Homo sapiens: one gene and its partners. The protein of the gene in region 5 interacts with the protein of the main gene of each other region in a pairwise test. Each region holds a gene or a part of one and is shown on either strand. Other genes may lie near its edges.

Region 1 (3,500 bases), on a different chromosome or scaffold from region 5:
GGAATAATTCCTATTGGCTATAAATTGTGATACTTGGATCCAGATGAATAGTTTGCTGTTTCATAAGTACATTTATATGTATAACAACAATACTTGTGGAGTAAGAATATGTCTCTCTCTGCTTTTGAAAGGTTTGTGGTCTTGATGAAGTGATAAAACAACTGTACTTGAAATGCTATTATTTAAAAGTTTTACTATCTTATTAATAAGATGTATTGAGAAGATATGTAAGGCCTGGCTTGGTAGTATGAGCATGTAGTTCCTGCTCTTCAGGAGGCTGAGGCATGGGGATTGCTTGAGCTCAGGAGTTCAAGGTTGTAGTGTGCTGTTATCACACCTGTGAACAATCCTTGTACTCCTGCCTGGACAACATAGTGAGAACCTGTCTCTAAAAAAAAAAAAAAAAAAAAAAAGACCAGGCACAGTGGCTCACGCCTGTAATCCCAGCACTTTCGGGAGGCCGAGGCGGGTGGATCACCTGAGGTCAGGAGTTCAAGACCAGCCTGGCCAACATGGCGAAACCCTGTCTCTACTAAAAATTCAAAAACTAGCCGGGTGTGGTGGCAGGTGCCTGTAATCGCAGCTACTCGGGAGGCTGAGGCAGGAGAATTGCTTGAACCTGGGAGATGGAGATTGCAGTGAGCTGAGATCACACCACTGCACTCCAGCCTGGGCGATAGAGCGAGTCTCCCTCTCAAAAGAAGAAAAAAAAAAAAAAAAGAGAGGTATAGGTAAGGCTACTTACGATTAATCATAAAGCAAATGGTCTACACTGTAAAGCTATGGGAATGCAGTGAGTAAATGTTGGAATAAAGCATAGTATTACATCTGCAAGTGATATGTTGAACGTCTAGGAAACAATATCAAGAACTTTTTTTAACTGTTGGGAACACAAATAGAGGAAGGGAAAGGGTTTTTGGGAATGTGGAATATGTCACTCTTAAAATGGTCAGCAACCTGTTTTGTTTAAACAGTGAATTAAAGTGATGTCTAAAGAGTAGTTAAATAAATGGACTCATTCTGAAACAAAACTTCTTGCTTTGTAATATTTGTGAATGTTGTATAATGATTACACAAATATAAAACTTTGCAACTAGAAAAAATGCTGTGAATTTGAGAAAGGATAGTTAACAATCATAAAACATAGTGGATTCATTTTTTATGATTAAGAGCTAGCTACTGAGCTTTGTGCCTTCTTGAAGAGTAAAGCATTGATTTGAAAACAGAACTTTTAGAAAATTGGTTTAAAAATTTGTCTTGCAACTTTTAAAAATTAGATTTGTTGAAAGTTTCCTTTAAGTACATGCTAACAAGGCATACTTTGAAAATATAGTTGAGTTATTGTTACCTAACTTCTGCCCTTGCTGAATGAATCAAAAGCATTAAAAATTGAAAACTTCTGTAATGAAACTAGAGAATGGCTGTTGGTCTATATCAGACTTCCAAGAACATCTTCCAATAAAATGAAATTTGTATTGAAATCTAAGACAAACTTTTTTTTTTTTTTTACATGTCAAGTAGATGCACATCTCTAAGAGTAAGGAAGATGTGTATTCCTCAGAGAGATTTTTCAGCAGTCACTTTGAAACATAAAGATGTAGAATGAAGAAATGGTAGGAGCCATCTTATTAAGGACTTTACGTCCATATTTGATGGGAAACAAATAGGTCTCCTTCACCTTAATGTAGCACAGGAATAATGACATGGGGTAGGGAGAGAGAGAGACAGTTTGGAAAAATGTTTACACCCTATTATGACAGAGCTTCCATATATGCAAATAATACTTACAAGTCAATAAGAAAAAGGTGAGTAATACAATAGGCTAAGCATGTAAATAGATAATTCTGAGAACACATACAAGCGGTCAAGAAATAAAAGATTTTTCTCAGATTGGCATTTATTTTAAAAATTTAGTGGTAATGTGGGGGTAATCAGGCCTTCTTGTGTGCTCCTTTTTTTTTTTTTTTTTTTTTTTTGAGGTGGAGTCTCACTCTGTCGCCCAGGCTGGGGTGCAGTGGCATGATCTCAGCTCACTGCATCCTCCACCTCCCAGGTTCAAGCGATTCTCCTGCCTCAGCCTCCCTAGTAGCTGGGATTACAGGTGTGCATCACCATGCCTGGATAATTTTTGTATTTTTAGTGGAGACGGGGCTTCGCCATGTTGGCCAGGCTGGTCTCGAACTCCTGGCTTCAGGTGACTCTGCCCACCTTGGCCTCCTAAAGTGCTGGGATTACAGGTGTGAGCCACGGTGCCTGGCCCTTCCTGTGTACTCTTGATGGAAATATTAATTATGGCAACCTTTTGGAAAGGGTATTTTTATTAACTGGCATCTAAATTTATTTTTTTCTTTCTGTCCCACAACTACTTACAGGAATTTATGCTACAGAAATGATCTCTATATATGTGTGTATACATGTGTGTAAATGAAAGAGTGAGTGCAGGAGTGAGCATATACACAGATATTTATCATAGCATTTGGGTTTCTTTTTTATCAGTGGGGATTTTGTCAGTACATTTTGGTGTGTTCATATAATAGAATGTTGTGAAGCTGTGAGTGAAGTTAAACTATAATATATATATTGACATAAGATATCCAAGATTATTGTAAGAAGGGAGCAAGTTGCTTGAGCAGTTGCTTGAATACTTTACTTGATAAAGTATTCATAAAAATAAAATACTAATATGTTTAAAAGTACACTAGGAATGTATAATAGCAATATATGTTCAACTGCATGGTGCCTATGTAACATACTCAAAATATTTTTCTTGCAGATGCCTCTTTGACAAGGCCACTTCATCATCAAGCTTCTGCCTGCCCGCATTCTCATGGAAACCCCCCTCCTCAGACTCAGCCTCCGCCTCAAGTGGATTATGTTATTCCTCATCCTGTACATGCTTTCCATTCTCAAATATCTTCTCATGCAACATCTCATCCTGTGGCACCCCCACCACCAACTCACTTAGCCAGTACAGCTGCACCAATCCCTCAGCATCTTCCTCCTACACACCAGCCAATTTCGCACCATATTCCAGCCACAGCACCTCCAGCACAGAGACTGCATCCTCATGAAGTGATGCAGAGGATGGAAGTTCAAAGGAGGAGGATGATGCAGCATCCAACGTATGTTTTACGTTTTTAAAAAGAAAGTCAAGTTTGCTTTTTCTTCTACTTCCATTGGTCTTTACAACTCTGAAATCCAACTAGGCATGGTGGCATGCACTTGTAGTCACAGCTCCTTGGGAGGCTGAGACAGGAGGATTGCTTGAGCCCAGGAGTTTGAGTCCATCTGGGCAACACAGTGAAATACTGTTTTTTGTTGTTGTTGTTTTCTTTTTTTAAAAAAAGAACAAAGAACAGCAACAACAACAAAAAAAACCATGAAGTCTTTAGAAATAATGTAACTTGTAACTATAAGCTGGGTGAGGCTCATTCCCGTAATCCCCAGTTGCTCAGGAGGCTAAGGCAGGAGGATAATTTGAGCCCAGGAGTTCAAAGCTG
Region 2 (3,500 bases), on a different chromosome or scaffold from region 5:
CAGGTTCCACATCCGTGACCAAACACAGACTGAAAATACAGTATTCTGCCTGTAATCCCAGCACTTTGGGAGGCTAAGGTAGGCGTATCTTCAGCCCAGGAGTTCAAGACCAGCCTGGGCAACATGGTGACACCCTGTCTCTACTAAAAATGTAAAAATTAGCCAGGCACAGTGGCATATACCTGTAATCCCAGCTACTTGGGAGGCTGAGGTAGGAAGATTGCTTGAGCTTGGGAGATGGAGGCTGCAATGAGCCGTGATTGCACCACTGCACTGCAGCCTGGTCTACAAAGCAAGTCCTTATCTCAAAAAAAATGAAAATAAAAAATTATTTGAGGATGTGAAATCTGTGTAGAAGGCTGACTGTAGGGGTGTGGAACTTGAGTATGCATAGACTTTGGTATCCATCCACAGGTGGTCCTGGAACCAATCCCCTAGAATACTGAGGATAACTCTAGTTGCAGTTACTAGTTTAATGAAGCTAATAAAACCATCTTTACCTTTCTTCGACAGTTAACTTAGATTTGGTTGAATCTCTGTTGTCATGATTGATTGCTTTGTGTATAGTATGTATATGTTCATCCTCGAGAGTGACATTTCGCGGATGTCTGTGCCTGCTCTGTGCATATTAAGTTTATATTTGGGTTCATTTTCAAAAGGAATATTTGTGGGCCATGTGCAGTGGCTCACGCCTGTAATCCCAGCACTTTAGGAGGCTGACATGGGCAGATCACCTGAGGTCAGGAGTTCAAGACCAGACTGGCCAACATGGTGAAACCCCCTCTCTACTAAAAATACAAAATTAGTTGGGCATGGTGGCACATGCCTGTAATCCCAGCTGCTGGGGAGGCTGAGGCAGGAGAATCGCTTGAACCCGGGAGGCGGAGGTTGCAGTGAACTGAGATAGCGCCATTGCACTCCAGCCTGGGCAACAAGAGTGAAATTCCATCTCAAAAAAAAAAAAGAAAAATATTTGTGAAGCCATAAGGTTTAGAACTGAAACATAGAATTTCATATAAAATATTATTTTATCCCAAATCACTTGCAGTACTTAGAAGAACACTGTGTCAGGGCTTGGCTATTATAGTCCCCTGGGGGACAGAAATACTTCAAAAATTCTTTTTCTTTAATTTGAATTCCAAAAAGTAGATGCTTGTATTCTAGGCTTTCTTATCACAGTTAACATCTTAGTTTTGTATGTGTTCTTTTCAAAGCTTTTATCCAGTGTGATATTACAAAGTAGATCATGTGTCAGAGTAATTTTTAATTTGGAAAAATACCTTTTAATGTTTAGTAAACCTAACTCAAAATGATTTGGTTAATTAGGTGCCAGTTCCTGTTTTTCTGCCTGCTCCATTGGACAGCAGTGAGAAGATTCCTGCAGCAATTGAGGAGCTAAAAAGCAAGGTTTCTTCAGATGCTCTTGATACAGAGTTGCTTACAATGACGGATATGATGAGTGAAGACGAGGGGAAAACAGAGACAACCAACATCAACAGTGAGCTACACTAAATTATACCTTGCGAATAAGTGTTAACATTGGTTATTTATAAGTATTGTTACAGTACTTTCCAGGGCATATCATTTTGTTTCAACTTATGTGGGGGTGAGGAAAGCATTGTAACAAAAATGTTTTTTATATTAAGAGATCTACACTGTATTTAGCCAGGTGCCCTCAGACAGATATCCGAAGCAGGAATTTGGTCTTTGGTCTCTGTTTTAAGCAGGATTTGACTTGTAAAATCAACTCAAAATTATTCTTGTTAATGGAGTAGTGCTGATGCAAAACTATAATAACTTGTAGTAGACTCTAATGATGATCAAAACTCTTATTTTGTAATAGTTATCCCTAGTTTTTTGTTTTGTTTTGTTTTTTTTTTTAGATGAACTCTTGCTCTGTTGCCCAGGGTGGAGTGTAGTAGCATGATCCCGGTTCACTGAGATCTCTGCCTCCTGGGTTCAAGCTATGCTTCTGCCTCAGCCTCCTGAGTAGCTGGAATTACAGGCACGTGCCACCACGCCCAGCCAATTTTTGTCTTTTTAGTAGAGACAGGGCTTCCCTATGTTGGCCAGGCTGATCTCAAACTCCTGACCTCAGGTGATCCACCTGCTTCCCAAAGTGCTGGTATTACAGGTGTGAGCTACCACACCCAGCCCCTAGTTTTCTTTTATTGCTTATACTAATAAAATAATTTGCATTATCTAAACCAGAGTTTATCTTAACCTCTGTTAGGGCAGTGCTTGCGCTACATGGTATAACGTGATGAGTGTGTTGTGGATGGTTCTAAGTCACTTAGAATATTTATTTTCCACCCTTAACCCTCTCTTGATACCCAAAGTCCTATTTCAACCTTGAGCTAATTCTTACCCTTACCCTAGAGGACAATCAAAATACTATAATTTTCTCTGGATTTAATAATGAGACAGTGTTTTTGAAGCACTGTGGTAAGGAGTTGTGAAATTAGTGGGTTGCAACCAGTGTTTTTGTTTAAGAAAAGAAAAAGCTAAGTGGAATAGGGTAAGAGAAATGACAGTGTGAATCCCTCATAGAAAGGGTAAGTATTATTTTGTGAAACCAGTGTGTATACAGATGTCTTTCTGTTCCCCACCATCACCTTGCAGTATGTGCTGGATAAAATGCATTTCTTGCCATGATTACAACACAAAAACACTTGAAAGCAACTGATCGAACCATTAAAAGGCAGTTGTTAATATGCATATATTGAACAATCTGAGAAACCTGGGTCAAAATTCAAAGAGTATTGAAAACTACAGTTGTCTACCCTCATTAGTTTATTTTTGACAAAAAGTTGCTTTTAGAAATACTTTACTTGTTGAAGTTGTTTTACTATCAAAGCATACCTATTAGCTTTTGAAGGGAGTCCTCCTGTAAAATTTATAGGATTAAAAGTTTTCATGTGCTTGTGACTAATTATGAGGTTTATAGTGGTTTACATTTTGAGATAGTTATATATATAATATGCCCTTTTCTTTTGTGACATTATACGTATTTTTTTATATTGCATTTAAAATTAAATGACTTGCTTTTGCCAGATTAAATACAGATACCATTGGGGTTTTCTGTTTTGATTCCTAATGATAATATGGATTGATTTCAGGTGTAATTATTGAAACAGATATAATTGGTTCAGACCTTTTGAAGAACTCTGACCCAGAGACACAGTCCAGCATGCCTGATGTACCATATGAACCAGATTTGGATATCGAAATAGATTTTCCCAGAGGTACTCAAAACCTTTATGACTATGGAATTTAGTTATGGAGTCAACTGTGGTTATGATCATTTACCATTTGATGTTTGTGTCATTGCCTTTTAGCAGTGTTCATATTTTTTATTCTTGTTATTTTTTAAACTCACCTTAAGAGTTAACTTCATATTTTGTTGTTGTTTTTTTTTAAAAACCCACCTTAACAGTTAACTTCTGGAATGAGATCACTTGAGTCCAGGAGTTCAAGACCAGCCTGGGCAATGTGGTGAA
Region 3 (3,500 bases), on a different chromosome or scaffold from region 5:
TAGGAATGCTGCATGCAGATGTGTATGCGAGTAGGAGAAAGGTCAAGAAGGACTTACACACAGCTTTGGGTTCTGTACGTAGCGAATCTGTCATGTACTAGTTCCAGGTACCTGTTTACCAGATGAAAAGATCCCATTGTTGTCTTAATCTAAATTGCTGAGTTCTTATTGCTACTTTAAAATTGTTCACTGCCAATCTGTAGAGAAGTAGTGGAAGTGAATGATGTGTACTGGATTTCCTTTTATTTCTCCTGATATTCAGGAGCAGGCAGGAAGAGGGAAAAGGAGAGCTTGAGCTTTCCATAGACTGGCAACTGAGGTCATTACTGATTAAGACTTGTGCATATTAAATAAAACATTGTCACATTTCCTTTTCAGGAGCCAACAGTTGGAAGTCAGATTCAGAGAGTAGTGAGCATGGCTGCCTTGGCCATGGTGTGTGAGGCCATAGACCAGAAGCCTGAGCTGCAGCTGGACTCTCTCCATGCTGGGCCCCTGGAAAGCTTCCTTTCCTCTCTTCAGCTCAATCAGACGCTGCAGAAGCCCCACGCAGAGGAGCAGAGCAGTTATGCTCACCCCTTGGAGTGCAGCAGGTACAGGGAAGGTTAAGGCTTAAAAATCCATTTCTGTTGTTGTCACCGTGAGTTCATGATTGCCCAACATTGCTTATAAAGTTATAGAATTTTGGGGCTGAAGCTCCATTCAGGATGAAAGTGTGGTATAACATTATTCATCTCTGTTACTGGAGACTTGCTGACTTTTCTGCATCTAGTTTTCACTGAATCATTTCAGATGAGCAAAAGTACCTACTTTCAGAGAAGTTAGAAAATTAAGGTTTATGTGGTTTCCTTAGTTTTTGGTAGATAGGCTGTTTGATAATGACCATTTATATCTGTACACTGCCCCCCCCCCCCCACCTTTAGAAAGGATAGTGTGCTACGTGCAAAAGACGTGGAGGCAAATTGGGGAAGTATGGCCTAGTAACTTTATTTTTTATTTCAGTGTTTTGGAAGAATCGTCATCTTCCCAAGGATGGGGAAAAATAGTTGCACAATATATTCATGATCAATGGGTGTGCCTCTCTTTCCTGTTGAAAAAATATCACACCCTTATACCAACCACAGGGAGTGAAATTCTGGAACCGTTTCTACCTGCCGTTCAGATGCCAATAAGGACTTTGCAGTCTGCACTAGAAGCCCTCACAGTTCTTTCTTCTGATCAAGTTTTACCAGTGTTCCATTGCTTGAAAGTGTTGGTTCCCAAGGTAAGATAGAGTGAAACATGAATTGAACAGTAACTATAGGAGTGGCGATCAAGTTTTTGAAATAAGTATGTATTTTTTTTTTTCCTACCAGCTTCTGACTTCCTCTGAATCACTCTGCATAGAGTCTTTTGACATGGCGTGGAAAATTATATCTTCTTTAAGCAACACTCAGCTGATATTCTGGGCTAATTTAAAAGCTTTTGTTCAGTTTGTTTTTGATAACAAAGTTCTTACCATTGCTGCCAAAATCAAGGGCCAGGCATATTTCAAAATAAAAGAGGTAACTAACTTTCTTTTCTTTTTGCTTTTCTTTTCATGTGTGTGAGCTTCAGCACATGAGGAACATGAGAGTTGTATTCACAATTAGATTTTTGGCTCTTTATTCCTTCAGTCAAAAATATTTTTGAACCTTCTTAAATATCAAGAGTAAGAATGAGAAAATCTGACAGATGTAGAAGAGAAGGTACAAAACGGTAGCCTGGAGCCACATCTGCCTCAGAAACGGTTTGTTTGGTTCATACAGTGTTTAAAATTTTGATTACCTGGCAACTTTTAATTGTTGGGAAATCTGGCCAGGCGGGGTGGCTCATGCCTGTGATCCCACCACTTTGAGAGGCTGAGGCGGGCGGATCACGTGAGGTCAGGAGCTCGAGACAAGCCTGGCCAACGTGGCAAAACCCCGTCTTTACTAAAAATACAAAAATTAGCCAGGTGTGGTGGCGCACGCCTGTAATCCCAGCTACTCAGGAGGCTGAGGCAGGAGAATTGCTTGAACCCAGGAGGCGGTGGTTGCAGTGAGCTGACATCACGCCACTGCACTCCAGCCTGGGCAACAGAGCAAGACTCCATCTCAAAAAAAAAAAAAGTTGGGAAATCTGTATGAAAAACTGGATTTCTTGGAAATGAGGTAATCTAGCAACACTGGTCATTCTTCCATGACAATGTAATTGATCGCTCGGTTGAGTAGGAGTTGGCATGCTCTTTCCACAATCAGTCTCATTTCACCCGGATACTTGAAGGCAAATGTCAGGCGCCATTTGTCATTGCACTTTGGCTGAGGTTTTTTTTTGTGTGTGTAGAGAAATATTTTTCTGACTGTAACCCTTATCAAAAGGTCTTGCTGGTTTCTGGAGGTATTTTCATTTGCAGCTACTGAGATAGGAACATACCAAGGTGGAGTTCCAGTGTACCTCCTGATCCCCAGGGGAACAGGGAGAGTCAGATTCCGTTATTTCTCTGCAGCCCTGTGCTGCCTTTCTTGGTCCTTTTCTGCCCCACAGTACATAGTTAGAGACGCTGGTCTTTGCTGCCTCAGCCAAAGGAAGGCCACTGGCAAAATGCAAACAAAGGAAGCTGAATGTGTGTGGGGTGAGGTGTTTTTCCCCTTTGATTCTACTGCTTTGGCAGTTGTTTCTCTTGAAGAGTCCTGGATGAATATCACTATCAGTAAAATTTTATTTATTTTTATTATCAAGAGATGAAATAGCATTCTCTGATTATTGATCATCTCGCAAAGTTATTCTAACAGTAATGAATTTAACAGTTTTTAGACTGTTCATGATTATGTTGAAACTAAGTAACAGTTTTTAGCAGCACTGATTTTTTAAAAACTAAATCAAGGATAAAATGACGGTTGTATTTTATTCCAGATTATGTACAAGATAATTGAAATGTCTGCTATAAAGACTGGAGTCTTCAATACACTGATAAGTTACTGCTGTCAGTCTTGGATAGTGTCTGCTTCAAATGTGTCCCAAGGATCTTTATCAAGTGCTAAAAATTATAGCGAACTTATCCTTGAGGCTTGTATATTTGGAACTGTGTTTAGGCGTGATCAAAGGTAAAAGATGCTATTATTTCAACTGGTCATAACTTGTATTAAGTGCCTACTTGGGTATAGAATTATGTCTTTGTTTTGAGGCTTTCAATTAAAAGAATATAAATTATTAGTTAACTTTAACCTTGGGGATTTAATTTTTTTTCTATTTAAAACCTGTTGTTCTTTATCAAATGTTTTTTATGGAAAGACTTGTTCAGGATGTACAGACCTTCATAGAAAACCTTGGACATGACTGTGCGGCAAATATTGTTATGGAAAAGTAAGTATGGTAGATTTTCTCTGTCTTCACATAAATGAGATACTAAAAATTTAACATCATATGACAAACATTCTGTATTTGCTAAATTTAATAAGTGACATCTAATATATTAATAAGATGGGATGAGCCTTTAAAAG
Region 4 (3,500 bases), on a different chromosome or scaffold from region 5:
AGGGGCATAAATAACCTGCTGTTACCTCAACAGCAGGCAGACAGCTGGTATGATATTTATTAGTAGAAGTTAGGGAATGGGTTGGGACATGGGGAAGGTTGGGCTGATTCCAGAGATAAAAACTACTATTGTAATTACTAGAGGAATAGGAAAATCATTAGAAGTATTATCAGTGGATAAGCACAAGGATCTTCCCCTTGCAGAGGATTATAGGAAGGAAGTTCTAGGATAGATTACAAGGAAAGATGTATTAGTGATATGCCATAATTATGGTATTTAACATTGTGGTTAAATCTGAAAAGTGCTCTTTAAAAAAATGTCATTCAGATCTTAAGGGCAGATTTTAATGTGTGATACAGATCAGTTCCTATTACAGTGAAGGACAAGAGACTGTTCAATTTCTTCTTTTTAGCCAGAATGGTAATGGTTTTGTCACAGCAATTTAACAAGGCTTCCATTTTGTAAGTTTTTCCAGCAGTATAAACATTTTAAGGACAATAGCTAGGTTCTTGGGATACTTGTCTGGAAACGAATATTTTGGTTAAAACATGTTTTGTTGATTTTTAAAAATAACAGCTTTATTGAGATATGTGTCTTATACCATATAATTCACCATTTAAAGTGTACTATTCAATGGTTTTTGGTTTATTCACAGAGTAGTATGTTGATGTGTTTGTGGTCAACCTGCCTTGCTCCCAAAAGAATTAAAGGAAACTATGATATCTCATTGCTTCTGATTTTGAAAATATTTGCTAGTCTTGACTTGCCAGTGGATATCTATATCATACATCATCCATAGGTGCTTTTGGTAACTAGAAGCAATTCTACATTTGTGGAGTAGGGTTTATCAATTAGACCTAGAAGGATTATCGGGAACATTATAATGAATGGCATGCTATTCCTCCTGTCATCATGTTCCCAGACACCATGGATAGCACCATGGTATCCATGCTATAGGATGGTCAAGATTACTTGAAGCTGGGTTTTTTTTTTTTTAATTTTTTATTTTTTTTGAGACAGGGTCTCACTGTGTCACCCAGGCTGGAGTGCAGTGAAATGAACATGGCTCACTGTAGCCTTTAACTCCTGGGCTCAAGCTGTCCTCCCACCTCAGCCTCGTGAGTAGCTGGGACCACAGCTATGCACCCAGCTAATTTTTAAATTTCTTCTAGAGATAGTCTCAGTATGTTGCCCAGGCTGGTCTTAAACTCCTGGACTCAAGTGATCCTCCTGCTTCCACCTCCCATAGTGTGGGATTACAGGCATGAGCCACCACACCCAGCCTATTTTATTTATTTATTTATTTATTTATTTATTTATTTATTTAGGTTCAGGGTCTCACTCTGTTGTCCAGGCTGAGGTGTAGTGGTGTGAACATGGCTCATTGCAGTATCGACCTCCCAGGTGCAAGCCATCCTCCCACCTCACCTTCCTGGGTAGCTGAATCTACAGGCATGTGCTACCAAACCCAGCTAATTTTTGTACTTTTTACAGAGACAGGATCTTGCTGTGTTGCCCAGGCTGATCTCTAACTCCTCAGGTCAAATGATTCTCCTGCCTCGGCCACTCAAAGTGTTGAGATTACAGACATGAGCCACCATGCCTGGCTTATTTTTAATTTTAAAAAAGTTTTAATTTTTTTGTTTACTTTTGTGTTTTGTTTTGTTTTTACCTGAAGCTGTTTGATTAGGAGGTTCCCATGTGTGCTGAGATGCTGAGTATTGTAACAGTGCAAAGACAATCTAAAATTCCACATTTGCAAAGCATGTTAACTTGCCTAGATGAAACAGCTCTTAAGGTCAGTAGATTGTATATGTGTAACTTTCCATTCCCAACATATCCTCTCATATATACAGGAGCCACATGGCCTAGATTTTTTCTGGGATAGATCCACTTTTATATTCTATGGCACTGTCTCTTCAAACTACTGATCTTGGAAATTCTAATATTTTCATGTCGAGACTGTATTTCTCAGACTGCTTCCAACATCTTAAAGAGGAACAGAAATCTCATCTCTGATCATGTGCCCTGACTTGGAGTTTGGCAAGGATGTTAGCTGTCCTCAAGTCTCCTGTCATGCCCTTTCCATTTGAATTTCCTCCTGGTGTTCCTAGGCCTGTTAACGACTTGCTGTTCTCCTAGTTCCGCAGCTTGGAAACCTCCGTATCTTTTTTCTTGTCTTTCACATTCGACTTCTTCTATATCAATTCTAATTTCAGTTGACATCCAGCTGATAGCTCAGATTTGGAACTCCCACTAGTACTCTTTTTCTCTGTCTTAATGTCCCAAACATGTTTCTGTCTTATTACGGTTACTGTATTTGTGTATATGTTTACCACTCCCACGATACTCTAAGCCCCCTGACATGCTGTTTTGTTTACCTCCTGTAGAGCCTAGCCCAGTGTTACACAGAATAGCTGCTCATTGAATATTTGTTGAATGAATACTTAAGCAGGGGAGGGATGGAATGAAAATAATGGTTTGGCATGATCAGTCCACTTGTAGGGACGAAGCAGGGTATAAAGATGTGGTTAAACAAGTAAACACATTTTCAGGCATGTTGAACAGGATGAGTAATAGAACTGGGAACCAGGGAGACCAGGAAACTTTCAGGAAACAAAATGTGAAGTGGTGAAGGTCTGGTGGACTGAGGCAGGGGCAGAAGGTGTGGGAAAGAAGAGGATAAATCCGAGAGACAGGTCTCTCCGAGATGGATTACATATAGGATGGGAAGGAGCAGGAGTAGTATGAAATAATGCCAGTAGCTCCAGACTTGGAAACTGAAAATTAATTCCTGTTTCATCACAAATTTTGACTGCCTCTGTGGAACTTGAATGCTACTAAGAAATACTTCTTTACATAGCTTGACAAAGCAAAATGCCCATTATTTCCTCTTGAAATTTGTTACTGTTTCTTGAAGTGTGAAAGTTTTGTGTATTGTCCAGAAAAGATTACAGAGAGATTCTGATTCTAATGAGAATTGCTGCTGCCACATATTTTAGATCTTCCTGGTACTTTTAGCTTTTTTTTTTTTTTTTTAAATAATGAAAGAGAACTGGAGGAAGCTTTATGAATGGGCTTCCAGGGATTTAACTGTAACCTCAGGGGAGGGGTGACAGGGAATGCTAACTCGTGTATGGGAGAATGTGGGAGAGGAGAGATGATCCGCCTTACTTCTTACCTCAGAAGGTAATTTAGTTTCTCTGTTTTTCATTTTATGATGAATTTTGCCTCCATTGGGAGAATTCAGGAGTACGTGGTCCACTAGAGGATAGACTTGGATGTATTTGTCTCCACTTCAGGCAATTCCCAGTGAAGTATGAGGTACTGTTGGAAGTCTAAACTTCTGATCTGTGGAGTAAGGTCTGGCCATAGACAAAATATTATGTGAGCAATTCCACTTCTTCCACCTCACCTGAAGGCATGTCCTCCATCCTACAGTGGTCTTCCTAGACTTATTCTATTTATCTTCCTAGGGAGTTTGTCCTTTTCTCCCCAGC
Region 5 (3,500 bases):
ATGTACCATATAATTTTTTAATAAAACGAGATTGCCCAGTGGGAAGTGGGATTGAGGGGGACACAGATAGGGCTTCATCAAGAAGTTATAAAATCAAAACACAAAACGCTTTATAGCAAACGGGGCACAGGAGTACACCAAGGCTCCAAGTTTCACTTCCATCTTGAGAATCTGACAGGTGCACCTGTCTGTTTCTCCGGAGCTCTGTTAAGGCAGGTTTGAGGAGGTCTCTTCCCTTTGTTGTCATAGGGAAAAGTAGATTTGGCGCTGATGTTGAGATCGACAACCACAACAAAAGACCTTCACATGTTTGTCTTTCCTTTTGTCTGCAGGGGGTGCAGCTTTTATTTTCCCAAATACTTCAGTATATCCTGAAGCTACGCAAAGAATTACAACTAGGCCAGGTACGAAAACACCCCTGTGTGATCTCTTCATTGAGAGACATCCCAGATGTCCTGCTGAGATCCGTGCCCTAAGTCACGTGATACAAAGAGAGCTGATCCCGGAGCTGAAGCCAGTCCCAGACAGTCTTATTCTGCCTCTGTTGATTTGGAGACTAAATCCACTCAAACCATTTCATTCAAAGACCACACTAAAGGAATTAAGAGCAGATTAGCCCTTTAACTAGCTTTTCAGAAAGACAGATGGGCAAAGAAGGCATCCTGGATGCCTGGCAGTTAGGAATAGGCCGACTTTTGAACTAACAGAAGGATCTGTCCCTCCTCGGGGGAAGAGCACAAAACAAGGACACTCCCCAGATTCACAGTGACCGATTATCAGTATGTCACAAGAAGCCAGTCTTGCAGAGCAGAAGCATGCAACCAGTAGTATTTACATCTGAATCTTACTGCCTGTCCTCCAAATGATTTAATTAGGTAATAAATTTACATGCCATTCATGCAAAAATAAACATCTATCAAGTGCCCATTAGTGCCAAGCGTGGTGTTAGACTCTGGGAATATATAGATGAACCAGGCTTCAGTAAGCTTCCTGTCTTCAGAAAGTTTACTTCTTCATTCAGCTTGGTTTGTTCATTTGCTGAGTGCCTCCTCTGTGCCAGCCACGGATGGTATGATGGTGAACAAACCGAAATGTTTTGCCTCCAGTTCTAGATGTTTCAGTAGAGTGACCTAGAGCCAGAGAGACACATATGTACACATAAATGTTTTCCCTAATGTGATAGATTTTATGGTAGAGGAACCACTTCTAGCAATACAGGGCGTAGGAGCAGGGGTGGGGAGGAACTCAATCCCCCATGAAAGGCATAAAGATGCTTTCCAGAGGAATGGCCACATGGCAAAGGGGAATTAGATGTTTGCCAGACGAATAATGAGCAGGGAGAGAGGGCATTTCCCAGAAGGGTATAGCTTGCCTTTAGCATTTGTCCTCTCCCTGGGACTTACATCAGCCCGATAAGCTAGGTATCATTGTACCAGCCTCACAGCTGATGACATTGTGTTCAGGGTGGTGGGATGGTTTCTCCATATTCATACATGCTTCCAGAATTCATGTTAAACTCTATCACATATCCGGAATACACAAGTCTCAGTTCGAACTGGTTCAAGATCTAGGCTTGGCAACTACTCTTTCTTTCTAATGAGAAAGACTGGGGGCCCAGGGAGCTAAAGAGAATGAATGAGGAAGCTTCTCAGGCTGTTCAAATACTGACACTGCCCTGGTTACTGCCTAGTGACTTCAGGCTGGCAATTTTCTCTTCTCTAACGTCAGAGAAAAAGTTTACTGTCTTGCTCCTGGGAAGCATGATGGAAAGGCTTAGCAGCTAAGGGGTACTAAGAGGTAGTAAGTCATCTCTGTCATGTAAAAGATTTCACAGGCCATTGAAACATGGGCAAGACCCAGTGCCTAGAGTCTGCAAGATTGGTCCTAAAGACATCCACCACGTGTATTGCGAGTGGAAAATAGAAATTCATGTTTGACTCAAGCTTTAGAGATTTTGTAATTCTGTGAGCATTTAAAAAATATTTCCATATAAACTAAAAAAATAAAAACTATTTCCAAAACATTTGGCTAGGGTTTTAAAAATTTTTTTACTTTTTAATTTTGTATTTGTTTGTTTATGTTAAGACATCTCATAGGTGCCTCTGACTGAGTTGCAAAGCCAGGGGTTGTGAGCTAGTATTATAAACTGTGTTAAAAGATCACAACACTGGCCAAATTCATTGGCACAATCTCTCTGTCAGACAAGCCAGCTGACTGATGCTACCTGGTTAAGACAGTGGGTCCTGGAGCTGCTTTGTTTTCACATTTTAGGATATGGTGGATTTGGAAGGTATGGCCCATCCAGGTGGATGGAGAAGAGGGTGACTGTGAGGATGTTGGTTGGGACTCCCTCTCTGCCCAACCCAGGGAAGGCAAGGGTGGCAAACTCAGACACCTCCCATGCCGCTCTGATGGTGGTCTTCCATGGGCCCATAATTTGAGCGTGACCTGGGAGAGAGCACACTTCCACAGCTCCACTACTAGTCAAGTATGTTTTCGCGACTCAGTTTGTACCTGAAATAACCTGTTTTGACCACTGCTACTGTGATTATGAGAACCAATACAAATATTGGTATCTGACCTGTAAAGAATTTAAAGCAGACTGAACAAGCCAGAGGACTATTTACTGTAGGCCCTATTCAGGGACTTGAACTTGGAGATAAGAACTAGTTATACACCTCGGGTCATCCATTGCTAAGCGATCAACCTTAAAGGACTGCTCCTGTGGAGATAAAAGCTGTGAACCTGCAACTGGAGAATGAACGTCGTGATGGCTGAGGGGGAAGAGCTTTTGCATCACTAACTTTCAGAGCTGAACGAGCTCCAGAGGGAGGTCACTGGGAATCTGACGATATCCCTGTGGTCAGTGGGTACCTGACTACTTTCAGAAAGGTGATTGTTGACTGTTTCTTTGAAGGTCCTTGGGGATACAGACCCAAATCCCTGTCTCCTCCACTCTTGGTTTGCTGTGCCATGATCTTCATTTCCATACCCTTTGTCTAATCCCACATCCGAGGGAACCGAACTCTGGTCAGCGTTATTGTGCTGACCATGAAGCAAGCCAGGCTCCTAGGTAACAACTCTACTTAGACCAGAATCTGTCTCTTCTCTGCATGGTGGCCGTTTCATTATAGAGTCCCTGATAGAGGAGACAGTGGTGTTCAGGGTTTACTGGTTAAATTAGACAGCATTCCGCACCCTTTCTGCAGAGACTCCTACACATGTGTGTTGTCCTGCTGCATCCACCTTCCCAGCACTTCCTCACCACCCTTCCCTCCTTCCCTTCCCACTGTGAGTCACCCATCCCTGGGTTACTGCCCCAACCTACCTTTTCTTTTCTTTTATCTTCTTTTCTCTTCTTTTTTTTTTTTTTTTTTTTTTGAGATGGAGTCTCACTCTGTTGCCAGGCTGAAGTGCAGTGGTGCAATCTCGGCTCACCACAACCTCTGCCTCCCGAGTTCAAGTGATTCTTCTGCCTCAGCCTCCCGAGTAGCTGGGGC
Region 6 (3,500 bases), on a different chromosome or scaffold from region 5:
AGATTTGGTCAGTAGGAACCATTTCAAGCTGACTATTGTGTGTCTTGACACCCCTGCTCCCCATTAATCTTGGAGTGCTTTCTGACACGAGTTACTCCAGGGTTTATCTTATACTTTCTTTGCTCACCTCTGGAAAGAGCTGTTTATCCAGGGAGTCTTGGTTCTTTTTAATGAGAAATCGTATATAGAAACCAAGTTCTGGATGTTTGGCATATTCGTTGCTGCTGCAGTATCATTGCTTCTAGGTGCTTTGAGAGGAGAGAACTAAGAAAAAGGTTTTTGCTTGTTTAATCATGAGTTCAGAGTGATATTCCAATTCCTATTTAACAAGCAGACTTTTTCTTCCTTGACTCTATATTTGTCTCTTGTCTTAAATGAAAATCTTGGTTTTTAATACAGTTAATAAACTGGCCAAGCACAGTGGCTCATGCCTGTAATCCCAGGACGTTGAAAGGCCGAGGTGGAAGGATTGCTTGAGCCCAGGAGTTCAAGGCCAGCCTGGGCAACATGATGAGACCCCATCTCTATAAAAAATAAAAAAATTAGCCAGGCGTGGTGGTGTGTGCCTGTGTTCCCAGCTGCTCAGGAGGCTGAAGCAGGTGGATCACTTGAGCCCAGGAGGTTGAGGCTGCAGTGAGCCATGTTCATACCCCACTGCACTTCAGCCTGGATGACAGAGTGAGACCCTGTCTCCAAAAAAAATAATAAACTTATTTGCTTTCTCCCACTGTATACATAAAATCATTTTAAAATTATAGTGCTGGTATTGCTAATACCAATAAGCTTCATGTAGTTTAAGATTTCTTTGCATTTATTTTCGTATTTAGACTATATTGCATGAAGAATGTATAATGAGTACTGTGTTCAAAAGTCACTTGAAATACTTTTCTCTGGTTATGCTACCAATTTGATATGGTTCATAGGTTTCAGTTTTTACTTAGGATTTTATTTTTGAATATGTAAAGTATGTACATAGTGTAGAAGTCAAAATAATGTTTTAAAACTATACTTGGATTAGCCGGGCATGGTGGCACATGCCTGTAGTCTCAGCTACTTGGGAAGCTGAGGCAGGAGAATTGCTTGAACCGGGGAGGTTGCAGTGAGCCAAGATTGCGCCATTGCACTGCAGCCTGGGTGACAAAGCGGGACTCCATCTCAAAAGCAAAACAAAACAAAAAAAAACTATATTTGGATAAACCTCATTAAAATTAGTTTTTAAAGATGAAGTATTGTTTACCTTTACCATACTCCTTTTAGTATCTACTACATTCTCACATCAAGCTCAGAAGAATTAGCAATAGACAAATTATGTTATGTGAAGCCACATAGAAGTACTTTTAAATTTTAAAATTAGATTCTGCTTCCTCTGGCAAAGAGAACTAAGACTAGTTTTTAGAAGTTAGCAGAGAAGTGGATTCCATGCTTACTTTTTTTTTTTTTTAAAGACGGGGGATTTACTGTGTTGCTCAGGCTGGAGTGCAGTGGCTATTCACAGATGTGATCCTACTACTGATAAGCACGGGAGTTTTGACCTGCTCTGTTTCTGACCTGGGCCACTTCTCTCATTAGGCAACCTGGTGGTCCCTCACTCCCTGGAGGTCACCATGTTGATGCCTAATTTAGTGCAGACACCCAATCGGCATAGGATACTACAGTCCAGAACTTCTGGGCTCAAGGGATCTTCCTGCCTCAGCCTCTTGAGTAGCTGGGACTACAGGCACACACCACTGCGCCCAGCTCTTTTTCTTAAATAGTGATTTAAAATAGTGATAGATTCTCATTATGTTGTCCAGGCTGATCTCTCAAACTCCTGAGCTCAAGTGATCCTGCTGCCTTGGCCTCCCAAAGTGCTAAGATTACACATGTAAGCCTGTAGCCGTAGGCCTAGATACCATATTTTTAAATAAAAATTCCATAAAAATAGAACTGTAGCTTTTACTTAAATCATGTCTTTAAAGAGGCAGGTAGTTGGTAGAGGTTTTATGACTCCATCTACTTTTTTAACTTTTTTTTTTTTTTTTTGAGATGCAGTCGCCCTCTGTTGCCCAGGCTGGAATGCAGTGGCTCGATCTCAGCTCACTGCAATCCACCTCTGCCCCCTGGGTTCAAGCGATTCTCCTGCCTCAGCCTCCCTAGTAGCTGGGATTACAGGCATGTACCACCACGCCCAGCTAATTTTTGTATTAGTAGAGATGGGGTTTCACCATGTTGTCCAGGCTGGTCTCGAGCTCCTGACCTCAAGTGATTCACCTGCCTCGGCCTCCTGAAGTGTAATCCTGGCCTCCTAAAGTGCTGGAATTACAGACGTGAGCCACTGCGCCCAGGTGACTCCATCTACAACAAAACTGGCATAAATATGCTATGTACAGATAAAAAGGCATTTGGATATGTGATCAGTGGAGATAACACATTTTGTTTGGGTTGGACCAAATTTGATATAAATTCATAATTATGTGATCTCAAATGAAGTTTTAAGAGGGAGCAGTGTTCATCTAAAGTAAGCAGAGCACAATTAGGCAGTTTATCAGCCTCCTGTCAACCAAGTGCTGAAAAGCAAAACTGTGCCTGTAGTGTGTTTTCCTGTGTTCATCCTCACTGTCATAGGTCACACTAGCTGAGGCTGGCGTTGCAGGTGGTAAAGGAATTACCAAGGCAATTGTAGGTAAAGAAGGGCAGATTTATTAGAGAAAGTATGAAAGTAGGTTGGTTGCAAGGGTGCAACGGGCAGATCAGCAAGAGAGAAGCTGACTGCCAGGAGACAATGGCTTGCTGGGCATGTTACAGGATGATGCTTCTGCTGTGTGCTGCAGAGAGGGCTATGTGCAGTACTGATAAGGCCAAGGTTGCAGTGAGCTAACTTGCATTTTTCTGTCAGCTGAGAGTCTGGTGATAAGTTGAGTGCAGAAAGCTTGTGAGTTATTTGTGCAAGAGGGCTGTGTGTCTTGGACCATGAAGAAAGGCAGACTTATACCTTATCTGCTTTTTCTTTTTGCTGTACCCTTTTCCCACCCGCCTGACTCCTTTTCCCTTACTAGGACTCCACAATCACTGCTTTCAATAACAGAGTGAACATCTAGTTCCATTAGGGAGTGGAGTGGGAAGATGGAGAATGCTTGCACTTGGACCCATTCACCCTCATTCTGTCTTTAATCTCAGTAAAATACATACACTACCCAAGGTTCTTAGAACATATAAGGTGATGAAGAAGAATACTATAAACAGTTGCATGGGTATGTGTAGCCATGTAGCAGCTAGAACCTGTTGTGTAGGCTGAATGAACTAATACAGTGTTGATAATAATGCTAACATTTGTTATGCCCTTTCTGTATGCCAGCTGTGCTAAACATTTTATACATTATCTTATTTAAATCTCACATTAACACTTTGACATTGCTACTAGTATCTTATTTTGCAGTAAGGAAACTGGTATCTAAAAGCATTAAATGACTTGCCTAGAGTATCACAATAAGTGGCCGACCCAGGTTTCAAATTCAAGGCTG
Region 7 (3,500 bases), on a different chromosome or scaffold from region 5:
TATGCTCCAGGATGCACTAACTTCCTTTTTCTGTGGGTAATCTGGGTAGTACTTGTGATGCTGGTAAAGATGATGATGATGATACCAGAAACTAACATTTATTGCACACTTAATAAATGTGTGCTAGACACTGTGCAATATATTTATATCCTTATAACAACAAGGTGTTGGCAATAACATCATTCCCTATTTTACAGATAAAGAAAGTGAGACCCAAAGATATAAAATCATTTGCCCAAGATCAGCTAGTATGGGGGCAGAACTAGAATTCAAACTAAAGAAGCTTTTAATCATCTACACTGTATGCTATATGGAGATCTATTTTCTAAAAGCTCCCATGTGAATATGATATATAGCTGGGTTTCAGAACTACTGCCAATTGTAGTTCTAAAAGTGCAAGTAAAACTATCTTTTTACATAATGTCTACTATTGGATGTTTAAAAATTTTTATTTGCTTTTGAGACAGGGTCTCATTCCGTAGCCCAGGCTGGAATGCAGTGACACGATCTCAGCTCACTCAACCTCCACCTCCTAGGCTCAAGCAATCCTCCCACCTCAGCCTCCCAAGTGGCCAGGACCACACGCATGCACCACCAAGCTCGGCTAATATTTATTTATTTATTTTATTTTTTATTTTTTCAGATGGAATTTTGCTGTTGTTGCCCAGACTGGAGAACAATGGCACGATCTCAGCTCACTGCAACCTCTGCCTCCCGGATTCAAGCAATTCTCCTGCCTCAGCCTCCCAAGTAGCTGGGATTACAGGCGTGCGCCAGCCACCACACCCAGCTAATTTTGTATTTTTAGTAGAGATGGGTTTCACCATGTTGGCCAGGCTGGTCTTGAACTCCTGACCTCAAGTGATCCACCAGCCACGGCCTCCCAAAGTGCTGGGATTACAGGCGTAAGCCAACATGCCCGGCCACTTTTTTTTTTTTTTTAATAGGGATATAAATCTTTTTCTTCACTAGACCCTGCTTCTAGGTGGAAGGGTCAGACTCCAGCAGGCCAGACACGGGAGCACCAAGGTAGGAAGGAGGAGGATACCTCATAGCCACCAGTCAACAGAATGTATTTAATAGTGACAGTACTGAAACCAGATTCTAACACATCCTAGAATAAATCACTGGAAGTATCCCCATTGGATTTTTGTTAAAAGACAAGAAAAAGCATCTAAAGAGAAGCAACCTATTATTAATGGGACATTAATCAAAGCACTAACTTGATCTTTTAGTAGCATTATCCCACCACTGGACTGGATAGTACAAATCTCTCGATGTTTGTTCATGGCAATCACCAGCAAGCCATCCATCACACGTTCTTCTCGTTCATTGGGATCCACCAATAAATATGTTCTGAAATGAATGTTAAATGGACCTGAACAAATCTGAGACCGAATGCTTACCATTTCTTGGGTAATGAATTTTTAAAAGATGGCATCAATAAAGTCAACAGAGAATAAAGGTCTGAGCCTACGGATTTGGGTCACTGAAATGGGGAAAGAGACAAGAAAATTATTGTGTTTATGAACACAAATGAATGCTAAGTGGGTATCTCTAGTTATTACAATGAAATCACATTAAGTTCAGATTGGATTTACTTAAATGATATATAATCTAAACCTAATGCTATCTCTTTGATTAAATGACTTCTGGCTCATTAATAAAAACTTAGATAATGTTAAATTGGTTAACCCTAAAGTTGCCCTAATGTCCTGTACTCCAAAGTTCTACTGCGTTCTGCTAATGGCTCATGAAAAAAATACTGTCTATTTCTGCACTGTCCGGTACATTTGCCAATAGTCACCTGTGGTTACTGAGCCCTTGAAATGTAATCAGAGTATGTAAAATATTGGATTTCAGAGACTTAGTGGAAACAAAAGAATGTAGACTATCTCATGAGTAATTATTAAAATACTGATTATTTCATTAATCATTTTATTTCATTAACGTGAAAATATATTAATTAAAAATATATAAAAATTAATTTTACCTTTTTAATGTGACTACTGGAAAATATTAAATTACACATATGAGGCCAGGCATGGTGGCTCATGCTTGTAATCCCAGCACTTTGGGAGGTCAGGACTGCAAGATCACTTGAGCTCATGAGTTTGGGACCAGCCTGGGCAACAAAGTGAGACCCTGTCTCTACAAAAAAAATTTTTTTAAATTAGCTGGGTATGCCACACACCTATAGTCCCAGCTACTTGGAAGGCTGAGGTGGGAGGATCACTTGAGCTCAGAAGTAGGCTGCAGTGAGCTATGATCACACCACTGCACTCCAGCCTGGGTGAGAGTGAGACCCTGTCACAAAAAAATAAAAAAAAAATTTAAAAAGTAACAAATGCTGCGCATGGTGGCTCAAGCCTATAATCCTAGCACTTTGGGAGGTGGAGATAGGCGGATCACTTGAGCCCAGGAGCTTCAGACCATCCTGGGCAACGTAGTGAAATCCCATCTCTACAAAAAATAAAGAAATTAGCTGGGCATGGTGTGCACCTGTGGTCCCAGCTACTCAGGAGGCTGAGGCAGGAGAATCACTTGAGCCTGAGAGGTTGAGGCTGCAATAAAACATGATCACGCCACTGCACTCAAGCCTGGGTGACAGAGGGAGACCTTGTCTTAAAAAAAAAAAAGAAAAGAAAAGAAAAAGAAACAGCCAGGCATGGTGGCTCATCCCCGTAATCCAGCATTTTGGGAGGCTGAGGTAGCTAGATCACTTTTGAACTCAGGAGTTCCAGACCAGCCTGGGCAATATGGCAAAACCTCTTTTTTACAAAAAAAATACAAAAATTAGCTAGGCATGGTGGTGCATGCCTGTAGTCTCAACTACTCGGAAGGCTGAGGCTGAAGAATTCATTGAGCCCAGAAAGCAGAGGTTGTAATGAGCAAAAATCACGCTGCTGAAATCCAAATTGGGCAACAAAGCCAGACCTCATCTCAAAAAAAAGAAGAAAATAAGAAAATTATATATATGGTTCACATTTTATTTCTACTGGACAATGCTGGCCCATTTTCCTCTGATAAAACTCTACACTTACAATCACTAAAACTTGTAAGTGTTTCTCTAGTCCTTGTGCACAACACTGTGTGAAATATTTTTATCTTCCCTTGTTTCTAAAGGAATTTAAGGCTCAAGTTTTCATTTGAAAGCACCATTAAATGGACCTGAAAAACTCCAAGTTTTCTGCCACAGGAGGATTTAGCAGTTAAGTAATGAAAACGCTGGAAAACTTAAGAACATTAGATTTTTTTCCTCCAGTCTGTGAACCATCCCCCCTTGTAACCGACTCCTAGAACTACTCCATCTAATATGTTCCAAAGTCCCCTATCTTCCAATAACCCACAGTAATTCTCACCCCACTGTCCCAAATTAGAGCCTAGCATATAATTCTCTTAACCACTGTACAGCCTTAGGAAACATAAAACACTACCATGCCATAGTAAATTCCTAAGTTTATAAGTATCCCATGAAAAGAAAAATGTTGGGAAGTATC

The links.
Region 1: the proteins of ERG (region 5) and RNF111 interact in a two-hybrid assay, tested with the Homo sapiens proteins (one large-scale study listed by BioGRID and IntAct).
Region 2: the proteins of ERG (region 5) and ZMYM2 interact in a two-hybrid assay, tested with the Homo sapiens proteins (one large-scale study listed by BioGRID and IntAct).
Region 3: the proteins of ERG (region 5) and TARBP1 interact in a two-hybrid assay, tested with the Homo sapiens proteins (one large-scale study listed by BioGRID and IntAct).
Region 4: the proteins of ERG (region 5) and MYO5A interact in a two-hybrid assay, tested with the Homo sapiens proteins (one large-scale study listed by BioGRID and IntAct).
Region 6: the proteins of ERG (region 5) and ZBTB44 interact in a two-hybrid assay, tested with the Homo sapiens proteins (one large-scale study listed by BioGRID and IntAct).
Region 7: the proteins of ERG (region 5) and EXOSC9 interact in a two-hybrid assay, tested with the Homo sapiens proteins (one large-scale study listed by BioGRID and IntAct).

What each region holds. Positions count from the first base shown.
Region 1 is NC_000015.10:59,078,163-59,081,662, forward strand, and holds part of RNF111 (E3 ubiquitin-protein ligase Arkadia), read left to right. Parts: intron 1-2,773; coding exon 2,774-3,122; intron 3,123-3,500. UniProt on the Homo sapiens protein: E3 ubiquitin-protein ligase. Required for mesoderm patterning during embryonic development. Acts as an enhancer of the transcriptional responses of the SMAD2/SMAD3 effectors, which are activated downstream of BMP.
Region 2 is NC_000013.11:20,059,727-20,063,226, forward strand, and holds part of ZMYM2 (zinc finger MYM-type protein 2), read left to right. Parts: intron 1-1,326; coding exon 1,327-1,498; intron 1,499-3,119; coding exon 3,120-3,245; intron 3,246-3,500. UniProt on the Homo sapiens protein: Involved in the negative regulation of transcription.
Region 3 is NC_000001.11:234,427,180-234,430,679, reverse strand, and holds part of TARBP1 (tRNA (guanosine(18)-2'-O)-methyltransferase TARBP1), read left to right. Parts: intron 1-378; coding exon 379-593; intron 594-1,002; coding exon 1,003-1,264; intron 1,265-1,355; coding exon 1,356-1,544; intron 1,545-2,913; coding exon 2,914-3,104; intron 3,105-3,291; coding exon 3,292-3,363; intron 3,364-3,500.
Region 4 is NC_000015.10:52,522,381-52,525,880, reverse strand, and holds part of MYO5A (unconventional myosin-Va), read left to right. Parts: intron 1-1,678; exon of another isoform or gene 1,679-1,699; coding exon of another isoform or gene 1,700-1,798; intron 1,799-3,500. UniProt on the Homo sapiens protein: Processive actin-based motor that can move in large steps approximating the 36-nm pseudo-repeat of the actin filament. Can hydrolyze ATP in the presence of actin, which is essential for its function as a motor protein. Involved in melanosome transport.
Region 5 is NC_000021.9:38,397,478-38,400,977, reverse strand, and holds part of ERG (transcriptional regulator ERG), read left to right. Parts: intron 1-332; coding exon 333-404; coding exon of another isoform or gene 405-616; exon of another isoform or gene 617-906; intron 907-3,500. UniProt on the Homo sapiens protein: Transcriptional regulator. May participate in transcriptional regulation through the recruitment of SETDB1 histone methyltransferase and subsequent modification of local chromatin structure.
Region 6 is NC_000011.10:130,308,418-130,311,917, reverse strand, and holds part of ZBTB44 (zinc finger and BTB domain-containing protein 44), read left to right. Parts: intron 1-1,443; exon of another isoform or gene 1,444-1,738; intron 1,739-3,500. UniProt on the Homo sapiens protein: May be involved in transcriptional regulation.
Region 7 is NC_000004.12:121,807,823-121,811,322, reverse strand, and holds part of EXOSC9 (exosome complex component RRP45), read right to left. Parts: intron 1,357-3,500; coding exon 1,224-1,356; intron 1-1,223. UniProt on the Homo sapiens protein: Non-catalytic component of the RNA exosome complex which has 3'->5' exoribonuclease activity and participates in a multitude of cellular RNA processing and degradation events.